Regions from separate parts of the Homo sapiens genome. Here all the other regions are linked to region 3. The links come from fine-mapping of genetic effects on gene expression. A gene starts in region 3. Each other region holds a variant in brackets. All regions are shown on one strand. Distances are between the middles of the regions. Region 1 holds the start of DRC7 (dynein regulatory complex subunit 7). Region 2 overlaps ADGRG3 (adhesion G protein-coupled receptor G3). Region 3 holds the start of ADGRG3 (adhesion G protein-coupled receptor G3).

The links. PIP is the estimated chance that this variant, and not a neighbour inherited with it, causes the effect.
Region 1: its variant is fine-mapped to the expression of ADGRG3 in whole blood (TOPMed, PIP above 0.99).
Region 2: its variant is fine-mapped to the expression of ADGRG3 in whole blood (TOPMed, PIP above 0.99).

What each region holds. Positions count from the first base shown.
Region 1 is chr16:57,692,177-57,697,788 of GRCh38, forward strand. DRC7 (dynein regulatory complex subunit 7) reads left to right here and starts at 2,630. Exons shown (of 19, transcript NM_001289162.2): 1 at 2,630-2,676; 2 at 4,288-4,418. The variant G/C (reference allele first, on the strand shown) is at 2,850.
Region 2 is chr16:57,683,434-57,691,130 of GRCh38, forward strand. ADGRG3 (adhesion G protein-coupled receptor G3) reads left to right here. Exons shown (of 12, transcript NM_170776.5): 9 at 499-779; 10 at 957-1,050; 11 at 2,210-2,493; 12 at 4,919-5,945. The coding sequence ends at 5,028. Among named protein-coding and RNA genes, the nearest start is that of DRC7, 7.5 kb to the right of the region's middle. RefSeq lists enhancers at 6,409-6,518, 6,659-6,708, 6,759-6,808. The variant C/T (reference allele first, on the strand shown) is at 5,521.
Region 3 is chr16:57,665,634-57,670,633 of GRCh38, forward strand. ADGRG3 (adhesion G protein-coupled receptor G3) reads left to right here and starts at 2,673. Exons shown (of 12, transcript NM_170776.5): 1 at 2,673-2,772. The coding sequence starts at 2,715.

The sequences.
Region 1 (5,612 bases), 27 kb after region 3:
AGCAAGACCCTGTCTCTACAATAAAATAAAATAAGGGAAAAAAATAAATATTCTAATTTATTTTTTTTTGCTTCTCCAGAAACTTTTAAAATTGATATGGAGGCATATAGACCTCAAATAGCTAAGTCAATCTTAATGAAAGAGGGCATACAGGAGGTGGAGGTTGCAGTGAGTCGAGATCATGCCTGTGCACTCTAGCCTGGGCGACAGAGCTAGACCCTGTCTCAGAAAGAAAAAACAGAAAGAGGGGCATAGAAGGAAGACTTGACCTCTAGACATAAAGATATTACAAGGCCAGTTTGGTAAATGCAACGTGGTGTCTGTGCAGGGATAGGAAAGAAGATCAGTGGAACAGCACAGAGTGCTCAGAGGCAGACCCATGGACACCTGGGGGATTTAATACGTGACAAAGGTGGCATCATTATTTTCAGAGGAGGAAATACCTAAAACTAACACATTAGTTCATGAAGACACATTTAAAATCATTAGTCATCAGAGAGCTGCAGACTGAAATGACAATGAGACCTCATTGTATCCTTATTAAACTGATGAACTAGAAAGCTAGATGGTACCAATGGGCAGGGACGATATGGGAGCCAGGGAGAGTCTAGACTGCTTCAGCTGCCTGGAGAAAAACACAGTGCTTCTGCTGAGCCAGCAATCTTGCTACTGGTTGTTTATCTTGAAGAAACATTCTTCCAGATCTAGACCCCTCTAGACCTGTGTAGCATTGTCTGTGATGGAAGGGAGCTGGTAGCAAATCTGAGTGGTCTGTCCAGCCCACCCAATGTCTGCTGGGGAGTTCCCTCAAGACTGCCCCAAACCGTCAAGAGGTAGGGCCAGTTGGAATTCCAAAGAAATAAACACTAAGCGCCGGGGTGATCCGTATCCATCCAAAGCATTTATTAGGGAAACGTACATAGGGAAGGCTGTAGTGTTCTCATGACAGACAGCAAGAAGGGAGATGAGTCTGTTCATAACGAGGAGGTGGGTTTATGGAGTTTATATGAGTGTTTAAGGGATTCGGTTCAGGGCTGGGGCACGTTTAGCATTTGTTTGATCTTTCCATGTTTCCAGCAACAACCTAAACAACTATCAGTGCCTGGGGACATTGAAAGCTCCCTCTAGAACACCTGGACACCGAGTGCCCGTCACTGGAAGGACGAAGAGGTAATAAGTGTGGATCCACACAATAACGTGGAGAGATCTTAAAAACACAGCCCTTCATGAAAATATAAGAACCAGAAGGATATATTTGTTCAGTCTCATATTAAACATATATTAAAAACACCAGCATGCCAAACAATACTCATTTTGGAAAAAAAAAATACACATCAGAATGGTTACTTTATAGAGGTGGGAAATGAAAGTGGGTATGAAGAGAAAAAGGAATGAATAAATATGTAAAAGGAATGAAGTGTTGCATAGGGTTGAAAAAGGACAATGAAGCCTATGCTGCATCCCACTAGCATAACGCATCACCTGTTTTCCTTTCTCCTCCCTCCTCCCTTCCTGCCTTCATCCCAGCCAGTTCCCCACAGAGGTAATTACGAGTTGCTTAGCACCAAGTCTGAAATACTACACACACTGTCTCGTGAGCTCTCCACAGTGCAATTGATCCTTTAGCACCAAGTCTGAAATACTACACACACTGTCTCGTGAGCTCTCCACAGTGCAATTGATCCTTTACAGCTTATTTTTATGGCTGCATGATATTCCAGCTGGGAGGGGGAACATCATTCTCTATTCATGAGAATTGAGGCAATTCCTAAGTTTCTAGCAGTAACACTAACTGTGCAAACTTGTCAGCACAGTGACAGTCTGGATTCCCTCCTGGCAGCCCTATCCCCTGACCAAAAAAGGCCCATGCACCCCTCCCTCCAAAAATAAAACAGTGAAGATTATATTTTAGGACTGTATTGGTAAAAACACAGATATAATTCAGGGCAGATTCACACTTATATAGTCATTATTATTCTCATTTTTTTCTTCTGAATTTAAAAGAAATTAAACATTTTCATGAGCCACTAGCCTAATGGATAGGTTTTCCCCGTACTTCGAGGTAATGTTCTACATCACAGCTCCGGCCTGGACTAGAACCCAGGACTCAGTCAAGGCAGCCTGGTTCTGTCCACCGCAGCTGGCAGCTACTCCAGGCCCCACACTGGTTTCTGTCTGTCTCGATCAAGGCCACATTCGGCATGCCGTGGGGCAGGGGCTGTGCTGTGCTGGTAAATGTTTAACAACTGGCTGGCTCAGAGGAAAAGCCCTGGTCTTGGCGTTTGCTAATTTTTGTGGTGTAAATAACCCCATGGCCAATTTTTTTTTTTTTTTTTTTTAGAGAGGTTCTCACTATATATTGCCCAGGCTGGTTTTGAACTCATGGGCTCAAAGGATTCTCCCGCCCTGGCTTCCCAAAGTGCTGGGATTACAAGTGTGAGCCACCGTGCCCAGCCCTCTTAATTTTTAATAATGGCTGTGTTTCACAAAAATTTTGGAAAGTTTAACAACTATCAAGTTGATGCCCCACTATACCAGTGCACCGCTGGCAGAAGGACCCATGAAACCTGGGAAGACTACATTTCCCAGAAGCCTCCTCTCCCAGGACCGGCGTTCAGCTTCCCAGGTTGTTACCATGGAGATGGCTAACAGCTAGAGCAGGCTGTCCTCGGAGGGGTGAGGAGGGAGCAAGGGACTTGGGGTGGCTGGACCCTGTCTGGCAGGGAAAGGGTGAGGCTGGTGGCCCCCTTCTGCCTGGGGGCCTCCAGCCCTGATCTTTCTGGGGAAGTTGTTGGTGGGGTGTGTGTGCGTGTTTATGTGTGTTGGGAGGAGGAAGTTGCTGGTGGAGA[G/C]GGGGTGCAGGGAAGGGCCGGTGGGTTGGGGCAGAATCTAAGGAACCTTGAGATAAGACTGCCTTCCCCACACTGGGCTATAGCTGAAGAGGCCACCTGTGTAGGGAATAAAGTGCTGTGGGTTCTTCTCCCCAGCTCTGCCTCTGATGGTGTTCTGGGACTGACACGTCGGCTTCCTCTTCAGCCTACTTCTTTCCTTGCCCACCACTCCCCCACCCCCACCATCCCTTCTAGCACTTCCCCATCTCATATCTCTTCCAGCCTGAGACACACAGGTTTCACAACCAGAAATACAGGGGTTCAAATCCCAGACCTGCTACTTACTGGCTGTACCTTAAGCAGTGCACTTAACTTCTCTGGGCCCCAATCTTCTCATCTGCAAAGTGGGTGTCCTCAGTGTCTGCCTCATAGAGTCAGTAGAGGATAAGTGAGATGATCTCCGTACAACCCTCAGCACAGGTCTGACACACAGTAGGCATTCAGCAAACTGTAAATGCCTTGTAATGGTGATGACTGCCCTTCCTGGGCTCATTGTCTCTGGGACCAAGAGGCCAACAAATGGATCTGATCACTGAGAAGTGCTGCTTGGCTAGAGGTTCTCCCCTGAGGATCTGGGGTCCTGAATGGTGTTGGGCTACCTAGGCCTTGGGTGGCTTCCAGCCAGATGAGCATTCGTCCCCTCCTGAGTCCCAGAGCACAGAATGTCAGAATTGGACAGAAAATATCTGCCCTCCCTTCCTACTATAAAGAGAAACTAAGGCACAGAAAGGCGCAGACAGTGACCCAAGGGTCCAGCAGGAGCTACTGGCAAAGCCAGGGTTTCCCCAACCAGGCTCAGTCGTGGCTGGTGGCCAGGGACTCACCTCCCTAGGAGGCCGAGGTGGCCCATGTGGGTGTGGAGTTGGAAATTGGGGCCAGCCTTTATCTGCTGCTCCCTTCTGCCCTCTTGCTCCTGGCTTCACCCAGGGAAGTGGGGGATGATTAGAAAATCAAGGGGATTCTGCTTTTTTTCCTTACTACTCGCCCCCTTTGTCCTGTGGGTTTCGTTTGTTTTCCTCATCTCTGGACCCCCATTTGCCGTAAGGAAAACAGATGTTCGAGGACAGAAATGGAAAGACCCCAGCTGGGAGGCTGCAGATAGTGCATCAGCTGGGATGGCGTTGGGTGGTGTGGAACAGGGACCCCCATAGAAGCTGAGGTTTCTTATATAAGGAAAGGCTAGAGGTGGCACTCCAGGCCTCTGTGGCACTGCTGGGGACCCCAGCTCCCCCATCTCTCGGCCCTGCCGTCCATAGCAGGCAGCTTTAGCCCTCATGTGTGGCCACCTCATGGTCTCGCCTTGGCTGCCCCACCTCCCACTTTATCTCCACATTCCAGGTGGGAGGAGGAGAAGGGCAGAGGGCTCCCCAATCACTTCTGCCCACATCTCATTGGCCAGAACCGGGTCACATCGCAGGGCCACCTCTAGCTGCAAGAGAATCTGGGAAGCTGAGCAATTCAAACCAGGCACACTGCTGCCCCCCACACAACTGGGGTTCTGCCGTATAGAAGAGGAGACTGGATCTTTGGGTAGGTGACTAGCAGTCCCCGCTCAGTGTGGCTCTGCTCTGTGACCACAGGACATATGGTGAGCACATGTGGCGTCTCTGCGTGGATCACAGAATGAAGCCTGTTCTCTGGGCCAACACAGGCCTTGGCCAAGAGAGAGTAGGCTGTGTTACCCCCACCCCCCACTCCCTGTTTGTATGCCCTGGTGCAGGCACCTTCACTCTCTGTGCCTCGGTTCCCAGTTTGATCAGGTGAGATATCATTCACCTGCCATCCTCATTTTTGGGTGGGTTGTAGATCATATCACCTTACCGTTAGGATTTTCTTTAAACCAATCTATTTATTTATTATTTATTTGAGACAGAGTCTCACTCTGTCACCCAGGCTAGAGTGCAGTGGTGCGATCTCAACTTACTGCAACCTCTGCCTCCCAGGTTCAAGTGATTCTCCTGCCTCAGACTCCTGAGTAGCTGGGATTACAGGCGTGTGCCACCACGCCTGGCTAATTTTTGTATTTTTAGTAGAGACGGGGTTTCGCCATATTGGCCAGGCTGGTCTCGAACTTCTGACCTCAAGTGATCCACCTGCCTCGGCCTCCCAAAGTGCTGGGATCACAGGCATGAGCCACCGCACCCAGCCAATTCATTTATTTAAATAAGAAACTTGACAATACTATAGTAATCCCCACAGCATTCACAGTACTTGTCATTGATAACTGTCAGCTGGCACAATGGCTCATGCCTGTAATCCCAGCACTTTGGGAGGCCAAAGCAGGAAGATCGCTTGAGGCCAGGAGTTTGAGCCTGGGCAACATAGCCAGACCCTGTCTCTACCAAAAAAAAAAAATAGCCAGGTGTGGTGGTGTGCACCTGTGGTCTCAGCTACTGGGGAGGCTGAGGTGGGAGGATTGCTTGAGCCTGGGAGTTTGAAGCTGCGGTGAGCCATGATCGTGCTGCTGCACTCCAAGCCTGAGTGACAGAGCAAGACCCTGTCTCAAAAAAATAAAAAATTTAAAAAAAAAGATAACTGTCAAATATACTAAAAGCAAATCGACACGTGCCTTTCCCTGTCCTGTCCTGAGGATGGCTTCCAACCGGAGGCCTGCTTTGTCTTTGTTGTAAAGGAATATTTGCCAGGATTAGAAAGGTGTTACAGATGGGGTAGCACCAAACAGAGACTTTCTCCATGTTTGAAAGGAAGTCAAAGAGGGAATCA
Region 2 (7,697 bases), 19 kb after region 3:
TGCCCATCTCTGAAGAGCTGCCCCTTACTGGTTTGGTCCGGATCTTGCCGGCCACGGGGTCCCTTTTTTATGTCACTTTTGTCTTGCCTGCTGAACCTCTGCTTTTCATCTCACTTCTTGCTCACCCGTCCCATTCACCGTGCTTCTATTCTCTGCTTTTACTTATTCTGCCCTTTATCCAACTTTTAATTCCCTTTGCTATTCTCCTGCCTCATTTTCTGGCCTCATTTTCCCTATTATCCTGCCTCACATTGATCAAGGGATGAGGCTGGCAGGATCCGGAACCCACAGGGCCCCGTGGGCCATGAGAGGCTCCTGGACTTGAACCTCAGGACACTCCCACTCTGGCTGCCGGCAGGGATGGAAGCTGGATGAGCAGGCAGGAGCTGGCAGTGGGGGTGGAGAGCCATAGGCTATTGGGGTGGACAGGCTTGGGTGCCTCATGGGAGCTCCCCATGGGAGCTGTGGCCCCTTGGGGCCTCTTATTTCTCACCCCAGGCTTTCCCGGGAGAGGTTCAAGTCAGAAGATGCCCCAAAGATCCACGTGGCCCTGGGTGGCAGCCTGTTCCTCCTGAATCTGGCCTTCTTGGTCAATGTGGGGAGTGGCTCAAAGGGGTCTGATGCTGCCTGCTGGGCCCGGGGGGCTGTCTTCCACTACTTCCTGCTCTGTGCCTTCACCTGGATGGGCCTTGAAGCCTTCCACCTCTACCTGCTCGCTGTCAGGGTCTTCAACACCTACTTCGGGCACTACTTCCTGAAGCTGAGCCTGGTGGGCTGGGGTAGGTGCTGCCTGGATGGACAGAATAAACGGCCGGCCCTGAGGGTGCAGAGGGAAATAGCCTTGGGGAGAGAGAGGAGGGGTTCCCAGAGCTGGAGGGATGGCCATCTGGAGGGGACGTGGAGGAGGAAGTGCCAGTAAGCCCCAGTGGTGTCATGCCATTTCCCCTTGTGCCCAGGCCTGCCCGCCCTGATGGTCATCGGCACTGGGAGTGCCAACAGCTACGGCCTCTACACCATCCGTGATAGGGAGAACCGCACCTCTCTGGAGCTGTGAGTGGCGGCTGTGGGAGCAGGGGTGATGCCAGCTCCCCGGCTACACATATTGGGGCTGGAGAGAGGTGGGGAGAGGAGGGATTTCTAGGAAAATCTAGACCAAATATGTCAAGACCAGAAGAATCCTCAGATCCAGCTAGCTCATGGCACAGAGAAGTAAACTGAAGCCTAGAGAGAGAGAGGGGAAGTGAAATGAGAGAGGGGGCCTGAGAAAGGAGAGGGAGAACTGGACCAGGAGGCAGGATGCCTTACTTGAGCCTGGGCCAACACGAGCCCACATGGCACCTTGAGGCAAAGTAAAGAAGGTCACCCCGTCCGCATGCGGGGTGCGCAGCCTGGAGAGTGGAGGGTGTGTTGGATTTCAGCCCCCACCTGCTGCCCAGCCAGGTGTCCTTGTTCAGGCCACCACCTGCCCAGTGATTCACAGTAGCCCTGGGTCTAGTCTGGGCTCTGCCCTGCCTGCTATGTGTGTGATCTTGGCAGGCCCGATCTCTCCCAGGGCCTCAGTCTCCTCATCTGCACCATGGGGGAACTGATCAACATGCTCTTTGAGGCCCTTTGCCCCTGCAGTGCAGAGGGCAGTGGAGCTGAGTTCAGTTTCTAGACTCACACCTTGGGATCCATGGGGCACCCACCACTGGGCCCATGGCTCTGTGCTAAGAGGAGCTGGTGAGGCCTTGGACCTGTCCCCAGGCCTCAAAAGCAGGGGCCCCAGGAGCTGGAGGGGTCACAAAGGTGCAGGCAGTGGGCCAGGTGGGGACTGCAGCGGACTGGCAGTCACAAGCCCATCTAATTAGCGGTCAGTTACTATCCTTCAGGAGGGCATCCACAGAGCTGCCAGGTGTATGATTTTATAGGAGAAGCAGAAATCTAGGTGTTTATACCAAAGCTTCTGATTTTAAAGGCGGCCACTAATTCCGTTTTTTTCACAATGTAATATGGGGCAAATGAAACATGTCTTTGAGGTCACTTTGGCATTAAAGAGACACCAGACTGGAGCCAGGTGACGGCCCCTCCCACAGCGGGAGAGCCAGGGATTGATGGGTGGAAATGGGAGAGGCACCTTCACAGACAGAAAAGCTCAGCCAGGGGACTTCCTGGGTTTGCTGGCCAGAGGTACCACTCCCAGTCCCACCACAGCTGCCCCCTCCTCCAGATGCTGGTTCCGTGAAGGGACAACCATGTACGCCCTCTATATCACCGTCCACGGCTACTTCCTCATCACCTTCCTCTTTGGCATGGTGGTCCTGGCCCTGGTGGTCTGGAAGATCTTCACCCTGTCCCGTGCTACAGCGGTCAAGGAGCGGGGGAAGAACCGGAAGAAGGTGCTCACCCTGCTGGGCCTCTCGAGCCTGGTGGGTGTGACATGGGGGTTGGCCATCTTCACCCCGTTGGGCCTCTCCACCGTCTACATCTTTGCACTTTTCAACTCCTTGCAAGGTGAGGCCCCTGCACCAGGGAGGTGATGGGCTGTGTTGTCTGTCCCAGGAGGTATTGGGAGGTGGGGAAGAGGGTGGTTTGCAAGACACAGGACTCTGTTCAGGCTAGCTGAAGTCAAGGATGTTGATTTCAAATACTCAGAGCAAGGATCCAGGGCAGCAAAGTTTGGCTGCTGTATTAGTCCGTTTGTGTTACTAGAATACAAAGGAATACTCGAGACTGGGTAATTTATAAAGAAAATGGGGTTAATTGGCTCATGGTTCTGCAGGCTTTAGACAAAGCACAACACCAGTATCTGCTCCTGGTGAGGCCTCAGGAAGCTTCCAATCATGGTGGAAGATAAAGGGGAGCCAGCGTATCACATGGCGAGAGTGGGAGCAAGGGAGTGGGGAGGCACCATGCCGTTTTAAACAGCGAGATCTCGCATGAACTCCAAGTGAGCACTCACTCATCACCAAGGGGATAGTGCTAAGCCATGCATGAGGATCCGCTCCAAGGATCCAATCTCCTCCCCTCAGGCCCCACCTCCAACATTGGGAATCACATTTGGACATGAGATTTGGAAGCAACAAACATCCCAGACATATCAGCTGCCTTCATGGGAGCTGCTACCAGAATCAGAAAAAGCCACCCAAACCAAAGCAGATACGTTCTCTATCTTTTTCCTGGAGCTATGGAGTCTCTCACCTAGTGTCTGTGGAAACTCCTTCATTCTCTCTCCACTTACCCTTTACTACCCATGGCCCCAAATTGTTACCCAACATGGCTGCCGTAACCCTACCTGACCTTGCAAGTTGGGTGTCCATCGTCCATCTCTGGTCCAATCAGCTGCGACCAGAAGGGCAGAATCATGTGATATGATGTCCACATGACATGGATGGGATCTCCAGGGATCTATGGAGGTAGGAAGGAAATGCTTGCTGTATTTGTTACTGGCCCCCGCAGGGCCCTTCCTCTGAGATCCCAGCAAAGGGGTAAGAGCAGTCCATGTGCTATGGTTTATATGTGTTCTCTTTGCTCCTTACATCCACAGCCCAGAGAGGCATCACAGTCTGACTGTGAGAGAAACAGCCAAGACAGGAGTGACGAGACTCAACCTGTTCAGGGAAGTCACTAGAAACCCAGGCGTCCTAGATGCAGCGGGTATAAGCCCCCAAGACCAGGACTGGCTCCCAGCGCCCCATGAGAGATGTGTGGCTTAGTGGCTAGGGCCAGGCAGCCCTGGGTCCAAATCCTAGCCCCATCCCTGACCCAGCAAGTCACTCAGCTCCTTCCGTCCTCATTCATCGCGAAATTGGGATAATCCCGTACTTATCTCACCAGCTTTTTTTTTTTTTTAATTGAGATGGAGTCTTGCTCTGTCACCCAGGCTGGAGTGCAGTGGCACGATCTCAGCTCACTGCGACCTCCACCTCCTGGGTTCAAGTAATTCTTCTGGTTTCAGCCTCCTGAGTAGCTGGAACTACAGGCACATGCCACCATGCCCAGCTAATTTTTGAATTTTTAGTAGAAATGGGGTTTCACCATACTGGTCAGGCTGGTCTCAAACTCCTGACCTCAGATGATCTACCTGCCTCAGCCTCCGAAAGTGCTGGGATTACAGGCGTGAGCCACTGTGCCTGGCCTGCCAGATTTCACAATGAACAATGACAATGCATATGTGGGAACTACTAGGTCTTCAATATGTGGGAACTATATTAATAATCATAGAAATTATGACTGTAAGGCCATCTGAGGCTGTCTCCAGGTGGAGAATCATGAGTCCATGCCTGGAGAATCCCAGGGGTTGATGGTTGGGGAGAAATGAACTTTGAAACTATAGCTGACATCGTTATTCTTTCAGAGGTTACCTTAATATGTAAGCCTGCACACTTCACTCTACTAAGTTTCCACTGGGTCTGAGTTATTCTGTATTTCTCTCTTCCTCTCCAATACAACAGAGCCCTTGGTATACTTGAATTGCCCATTGAACTCTTCTCAATATTTGTCTTGCATATAGAGGTTTAGTTACAGATTTCCTTGAAACATAGAGTTTTTCTAAGTCATGTTCTGTACTTACTATAATTTCTTTCACCCCACACTTTCCCTTTTCCTCTTGCTGGAGTGCCTCCCATAATAATCCTTTATAGAGGGAGTGATGGTTGTTTTGTATGTCTGAAAATTCCTCTATTTTGCTCTTTCTTTTCTGTAATAGGCATAGGTAGATATTTTATTTGAAGGTCTCTGTTTTTCATTTCCAAGATTTCGATTTGGTTCTTTTTTATTTCATTTTTGAAATGGTTGTGAAATGGTTGCATTTTTGCCTTTCCCAGCAGTTCTTGAGTGGTTACGGTGGGTCTCCTCCCTCTCAGCAGCCACCAGCCCAGGCTGCCCCACTCTCTGCCCACCCCTTTCCAGGCTCACCGAGGCCTCTCCTTCCTAACAGGTGTCTTCATCTGCTGCTGGTTCACCATCCTTTACCTCCCAAGTCAGAGCACCACAGTCTCCTCCTCTACTGCAAGATTGGACCAGGCCCACTCCGCATCTCAAGAATAGGAAGGCACGGCCCTGCAATATGGACTCAGCTCTGGCTCTCTGTGTGACCTTGGGCAGCTCCGTGCCTCTCTCTGTACTCCCTCAGTTTCCTTCTCTGTACAATGTGGCTGGGGAGGGAGAGGATGGGACCAGGTTGGACCACGTGGCATCAGAGGTCCCATCCAGATCCAACTATAGGTCCAAGAGTCCACGTAAGCAGGTTTGCAAGGCTCTAAAGTTCCTATAGTCCTGAGACCCCCTGCCAGCAAAGAGTGACAGTCACCTCCATGCCCTGCCCTCATTGCAAAGCCCTCACTCACCTTCTGGTCTCAGCAAGGGAGGAGAGTCTGTTGCTGGCATAGCCCTGGAAGGAGCCCCCAGCCTCTCCCCTCCTCCTCCTTGTCACTGGCCTCCCACAACTCCCCTTCTGGCTGCCTGTAACCTTGAGGGGCATTCAGGAGGCCAGCGTTCCCTCAGGCACTGGGGGTTTGTTTTGGGGGGTGGGAGTTGATC[C/T]TCCCACCCAGTCTGCCCCTGGTCTCTGCCCATCCAATCAGAGCCCACCCTCCTGGAAGAGACCCCCGTGTTCAGAGTGCTGGCAGCCCTGCACGTGTCCAGGGACACTGCATTTCAAAGAACCACTGAGTGGGTGAGCTACCTTGGGCAAACCCCCCACTCCTGACTCTGACTGCCACGTGGGTGGCCCGACCTCTGACCTGCTGTCATCGTAGAGGTAGAAAGCAAACAATCTGGGGCTCAGCACACCTGGGGGTGCTCCCACTCATTCAGTGTGTGGGGCCCCTGAGCAGAGGCTGGGCATTGCCACTAGGACCTGAGCTCCTAGAGAACAAGGACCTGGGTGGCCTCGCTTACTGTTCCAGCCCAGGCCAAGCACAGGGTCTGGCTCGTGGCAAACCTTGAATAAATATTTGTTGGCTGAATGAGTGGATGTATGAGTTTGGCACCAGCCTGGCAGATCCCTGAGCCAAGGGGGGTGTCTCAGGCCAGACCTAGGTTGGGCAGGGTACTTCCAGCAGCTGGGGCTCCATGTCACAATCGCATGCAGGTTTCTCAGTAGGAAACAAAAAGAGGCAGAGATAGCAGAGATGGGGTAGAGATACAGAGATGGAGAGAAGGAGAGAGAGACTTAACAGACAGGCTGACACAAAGAGGGAGAACGGTGGCGGAGAGACAGATGCAGAGAGATGGCAGCCCCACGCCGGCTCCAGCGACCCCCCTCCTCGGGGGGAGCAGTGAGTGTTGACATCATTCCCCTCCCTGGAGCCTCACCGCACAAGTCCATCCCTCACTCTACTCACAACTTACCAACCATTCTCCCTACCCGGCCCCCGACCCTCTCCAGGGAGCTCTGTGGACTGTCAAGCCCTGTCTGCAGGTGAGAAGTTACTGTCACTGTTAGGCCTCCCCCAACAGCCCTGGAAGCTGCGGGCTGCAGCCCACCTCCCCGTCCGGATGCTGGGTGCTGACGTTGACTGCAAATGGATGCGCTTCGCTTCCCCTCCCAGCCCACAAGCAGTTGAAAGACAGGAAGGTGGGCCCTCACTTTATGCAAGGCGCTGTGTTCCTGGAAGGGAAATTCTGGGGCGTGGACATTGCATCATTTGAGCCACAGGAGCAGTTCTGGTGGACAAACTTGGTGTGTTTTGGGGCTTATCTTCACAGACATCTGTTTCTCACACTGAAGGTCTCAACTTCCTTATCTCAAAGCCTCAGGGATGGTAACCTGAGAAACAGCTGTTCCACCATCTGATAGGTCTGGGCTTAAATCCTGGCTCGGCTACTTAGGAGCTGTGTGATCCTGGGCATTTTACTTCACCTCTCTGAGCCTCAGTTTCCCCATCCATAAAATGGGGATTATAAAGTCCTCACCTCATCCTGACAGCATTAAATGAAGTGACAGAAATAAAGTGCCCAGCACTGACTCCGCAGGAGTTAGTCAGCTCCCCCACCCTGCCTTGATTTAAAGAAAGACCAGCCAAGGGTAATGGCATGAGGAAATGGAGGTCCAGACAGGCCCAGCCACCTGCCCAACTAAGGTCACTCCATGGGCTGGGTTGAAGCTAGGGCCAGGCCTCCCCGGGTTGCCCTCATCCCAGAGTGGTCCCTGAGTTTAAGGATTATCACCTGGTCCTTGACTGGGCTTGGTGGCTCACACCTGTAGTCATAGCACTTTGGGAGGCCAAGGCAAGAGGATTGCTTGAGCCCAGGGGTTCGAGACCAGCCTGGGCAACATGGTGAAACCCCGTCTCTACTAAAATACAAAAAAAATTAGCTGGACATGGTGGCGTGCGCCTGCAGTCCCAGCTACTCAGGAGGCTGAGTCAGGAGAATTGCTTGAACCTGGGAGGTGGAGGTTGCAGTGAGCTGAGATTGTGCCACTGTACTCCAGCCTGGGCAACAGAGCAAGACTCTGTCTCTTAAAAAAAAAAAATATATCTAGGCATGGTAGCTACTTGGAAGAAGAAGCAGGAAGACCACTCGAGCCCAGCAGTTCAAGACTGCAGTGAGCTATGATGACGTAACTGCACTCCAGCCTGGATGACAAATCAAGACCATGTTTTTAAAAAAAAAAAGGAGGAGAAGAAGGAAGAGAAGGAAGGAGGAGAAGGAAGAGGAGGGAGAAGGAGGAGGAGGAGGAAGAAGGAGGGAGAAGGAGGAGGAGGAAGAAGGAG
Region 3 (5,000 bases):
GATCACGCAGGTTCCCATCTTCCCTGTGATGAGGGCAGTCACAACGGATCATTGCTACTGTGTTCAGGTAAGAGGTCCCAGTGCAGCCAAAGTCCTCCCCAAGGCCCACAGTCCACTCTCTCCCTTCTGCAGGCTCCTCCCTCCTCCCCTGGCCACTCTAGGGGGATGCCCAGCAGGGGAAGAGGCTCAGAGTCTTGGATTGGACAAGGTGGGTGTGAGGCAGCTGGGTCTAGACTGGCAGTGCCCTCTGAGGGGCGTGAATGTGGGATCTTGGGACCTGCAGGGACCAAGAACCCCTGTGCCCTGCTGCTCTCCCAGCCCTCCCTCCACCCCCTCCACTCCCTCCACTGACCTCTGTCCCCACCTTTCTGCAGGTGGGGGGCTCCTCTTATGCCCCCAGCTCCAAAGGACAGAGGCCAAACCTTCCCAAGCCTCCCCTACCCCAGTGTCCGGATTGGGCAGCCCCGGGGGATCAAAGCCAGCTTCCCTCCTTACAGGCTTCTAGGTCTCCGTGAGGGGGGTCTCTCAGAGCCCCATGGCTGGGCTAGGTCCTGGGATGGGGGTTGAGGCAACTCCCCCCATCTTCCAGAATGGGGGGGAAATGACCCAGCCCCGTTCCTCCGCAATTCTCCTGCTTCTCAAACATTTTGTTTCTGCATCTGAGGCTGGCTCAGGTAGTGGGGAGGGGTCTTGGGTTGGGTCTCACCTTCTCAGGTAGGCCCTGCACAGGGCACCAACAGTTCCATGCTGATCCTTTTACCCCGATGGTTATTATCATGCACTTTCCCAGGCTGTGGGGCTTTGGACAGTGGGATCGCCCTTTCTGCCAGCATGTGGCCAGGCGTGCATCTGGAAACATCCCTTTAGCTTGGGAAATGGATTGGAGCAGCTGAGGGCTGAATGCTGGCTGGGTCTCGCTGGAGGACTTGAGGCCCTGCCCACTGGAGCCATTGGGAGAAGCTGGGGCAGGAGGCGGCAGGAAGGGACACTACTGTTTTGTTGGCCCTGGGGTTGGGGGGGGTCTCAGGGTTCTGTGAGTGGCTCCAGGCTAGTCCCTGGTCCCCAGGGGGCGTTTCAGGGAAGGGGCCTTAGGAAAAGGTGGCCCTCCTTCCAGCCCTGCCTGACCTTCCCCTGCACCTGCCCTCTGCCCACTTCCCAGGTGGGCTGGCTGCTCGGAATCTCAGTCTGCTCACCCCCAGGCGCTTCTTCACACACTGGTACCTGCGAGCCTCTCTGAGGGCCCAGGTGCCAGGATGGGGCTTCAGCGATGGGCCCAGCACATCCAAGTCCACTGCCCCACCTCACCCTCACCTGCAGCTGGGAGGGAGGTCTGCAGATCTTCCAGGAGAAGGCTGGCCAGGTGTGGAGCAGTGGCAGGCCCAGCCATTCATCTGCCTTCGCAGCCCTCCCTGCAGAGGAAGTTTCTGGGGCTCAGGAAGCCCTGGGCTCTGACCTGCTGCTCCATGCTGAATTCCCACCTGCTCCCACACCATGAGTGACCCTGACATCCCCTCCCTACCCCTTCCCAGACCCAGAGGGCTCAGCAGGAGACACTGAGTGGGAGGAGGAGGAAATGGAGGCCAGCAGGGGCTGAGCGGCTCCCCAGTTCAATCCCAAGGCTGAGTAGGGCTAGTGCCAGCCCCGTGGGCCAGAGGGGGATGCCAGCAACCACACACCTTGGTGGGATGCCCTTCACCTTCCAATTGCCAAGTGGCCATGGCCTCATGCACAGTGCATCCGTGGGGCCTCCAGAGTTGGCCCGAGTGGCTGGCGCCCTAATTCCTTTAGGCTGAAGCCCAGGAGTGTTTGCCACCCCCACCTCCCACCTGATCAGTGACCATTTGGGGTGTAAAGACAACAATTTCACAGCTCTGATGATCAGAAATGATGTAATGGCCACAGGCGGCTCCGCCTGCGTCATCCATGATTTCATCACACACCTCGGGAGGCTCAGGGTGACAGACAGTGCATGCAAGGTCACCCGGCCAGGAAGTGGCCAGGATGGATGTTAGCTCAGGCCTGACCAGCCCCCGGGGCCGCACTGCTGTCTTCCCGCTACCCTGCCTCTGGGTCCGTCCTGTTATCCAGGCTGGTGGGGGAAGCTCAGGCTGCAGGGCCAGCTCCTGCTCTCCTCCCACACCCTCCAGCCTGGTTCAAGCCATAGGCACCATCTGGGTCTTCGTCCTCATGCCCAGAGCCAGGCTCTGTGCCCAGCTTGTTGCAGGTCTCATCAAACCCTGACACAGCCTTAGGAGGCAGCCCCATTGCCATCTTCACTTTACAGAGGAGGAAACTGAGGCTCAGAGAGGCTCCCAGCTTGTGAGAGGAGGGGTCTGAGTAGGTGCGCCTGACTCCAAAGCCTGTGCTCACCACAGTTCCCAGGGATCCGCTCTGAGCCAGGCCCCTGTGGCCACCCAGCCCCTAGCCCCGTAGATCCCACCCCAGTGGGGCCCCGGGGGCACATACCTGGGTGGGCTCAGCAGCTCCCTCTGCAGGTGGACCCAGGGTGCGGTGAGACTGGGAGCACTGCCCAGTTCCCCACACTCACCTTTCACAACCCAACCAATGGCGCCATCGAGCAGGAAGGGTGAGAAAGAGGACACAGGAAGCCAGAGTGGTGGGGCTGCAGGGTGGGGGCAGGCCAGCTCAGCAGAGCCTGGGGCCAGAGGGCCAGACAGCCACAGAGCTCCTGGCGTGGGCAAGGCTGGCCAAGGATGGCGACGCCCAGGGGCCTGGGGGCCCTGCTCCTGCTCCTCCTGCTCCCGACCTCAGGTGAGTGGCTGGCACCTCATCCCCTCCTGCCACGCTGGGCCGACCCTGCCCTGCCGAGGGAGGGATCCAGGGACAGACGCAGGGACTGGAGAAGGTGAGGAGTTGGGGTGTCTGGGATGTGTCCTCCGATACCCCCCGTGGCCGCCTCAGCACCTTCTCTAGCCCTGTCCCTTTGGGTCAGTCCTGTCCTTCCACTAAACCTTGCTCAGGACTGGTCTCAGGTTCCCTTTGTTGCTCCACAGTGCCCTGGAGATAGGGGAGGTCGGAGGGTGCTCCCTGACTCCCCAACCTGGGCTGTGTCTCCCTGACAGGCCTGGCTCTGAGACAGGGGTTGGCCCCGGGCAGGCAATTCTCCAGCTGGCTTGTGAGATCCTGGGGACGGGATTCAGACACTCTGGAAGCTGAGGCCAGGAAGGTCTGTCACCTCGTTCTTCTGGACCTCTCCTCCCGCACATGTCACCCCACACCGGCTCCCTCTCCCAGTCTCAGCCACAACCTCTTGGTCCTCAGTGGCCTGAGCCAGGATCCACACTCCTCCCCGTCACTCTCCCGTCTCACACACAAACACATGGTGCGTCTCCAGAGGCCATGGAAGTGCCCGGGCCTTGCCTTTGCTGGCCTCTCTCCCAGGAAAGCTGTCCCCCTACCCCTTGCCCACTTAGCCAGCTCCATTTACCCTTCTTGGCCTCTGTGGCGTCTTAGCAACCCTCTCGGACAGAGGGAGGTGCTCCCCCGTTAGTGCTCCCTCCTCAGTGCTCCTGTCTCAGGGCCTTGCAGGCCACTCTCTTTTTGCTCCTGACTCGGTGAGGGGCCTGCATGTCCATCTCCCTGTGTGTCCAGCGTGTGGTCGCGTGACTTTGGCCACATAGATCAACTTATTTGGTCTTCAAATAACCCTCTTCTTTTCAAACATTGGAAGATTCAGTGGAGTGAATCAGTCCCTGGCTCAAAAAAGGGTGGGAGATGACAGCACTGTCCTCCTAGTGGCCCCGGGAGGCCCTGGTACAGAGCAGGCCACCAGGCAGCCCTTGATAGATGAATGAACGGAGCCACCGATGGCAGCTGTGACCAGGGCTCATGGGCGTCCTCAGGTCCCAGCTGTCATCGCTGGTTGGGCCTTCAAGCCTCCTCCAGGTGATGCTGTTTCCCCCATGGTGATGTGGGTGCTCTGGTTGGGGCAGAGCAGCAGCCATTTGATTGAGCAAGGAGCTCTGAGAGGTCTACACACAGGAAGGTCTGCACACTTCCTGTGTGGACAGTGATGTGTTAGTCTCCATTCTCCATTTGCGCATTCATTCATTCATTCATTCATTCAGGAAGCATCGATGGTGCCCTCTGCTCCTGCTGGTACCACTTGGCCCCTGCCCTCAAAAGGCTCACAGTCTGCAGGAGTGACACAGTGTGGTGGGGGCTCGCATGTGAGACCCAGCTGTTAGGGCTGAGCAAGGGGTGGATGCAATGGAGGGCCTGGCATGAAGGGACACGTGACAAAGGTGCGGGCAGGGCACGGGGAGCAAGGAGGGTGGTCACTGGGCAGGCTGGCACCTGGGGCAGCCTTCAGCACCGTGAGGTCTAAAGGGGCCAGGAGGGAGTGGCCCCCTGGGCTTCTACAGCCAGACTGTGGCTACAGGAGGGAAATGGCGGTGGTTTGCTCACGGTGAGCCAGCAGGGGCTGAAGGAGCCATGCGGGGTGGGGGCAAATGCCCACTCTGCCCTCCTCCTGCCCTCTGACCTCCAGTCCACTTTCCACTTGCTGACCCCCAAATGAGGCAGTCCATGGAGGCCAGGCTCTGGAGCATAGAGGGTCTGGAGAGGAGGGGAGTGCTATCCCACCCACAGGCCTAGCACAGGGTCTCCTTGTCTACATGAAATGCTTGCAGTGTCTTCAAAGAATAAACACAGAAAAGATATTTAATGATCCTGTCTGTGTAGGGTGCTTGCCAAGAGCTTCACTTACATGCCTGCGCTGAAATTCATGGCAATCCGGGAGGGAGGCCTGCACCTGGACCCATTCATGACAGCAGGGCCGGGATGGCAGAGAATGGCACCCGTCCTCAAGCTGACAATGTTATCTCCCCTCCTCTCCTGTCCTCTTCCTTCCCCTCTCAACCCCTCCTCCCCTCTCCTCTCTTCCCTCTCCCTGTTTCTGTCTTCTTCCTCCTCTCCCTCTTCTCCCCTTTTTTAAAAAGCCAACATAGATCATACTATATTCATGCTCATCTATCATT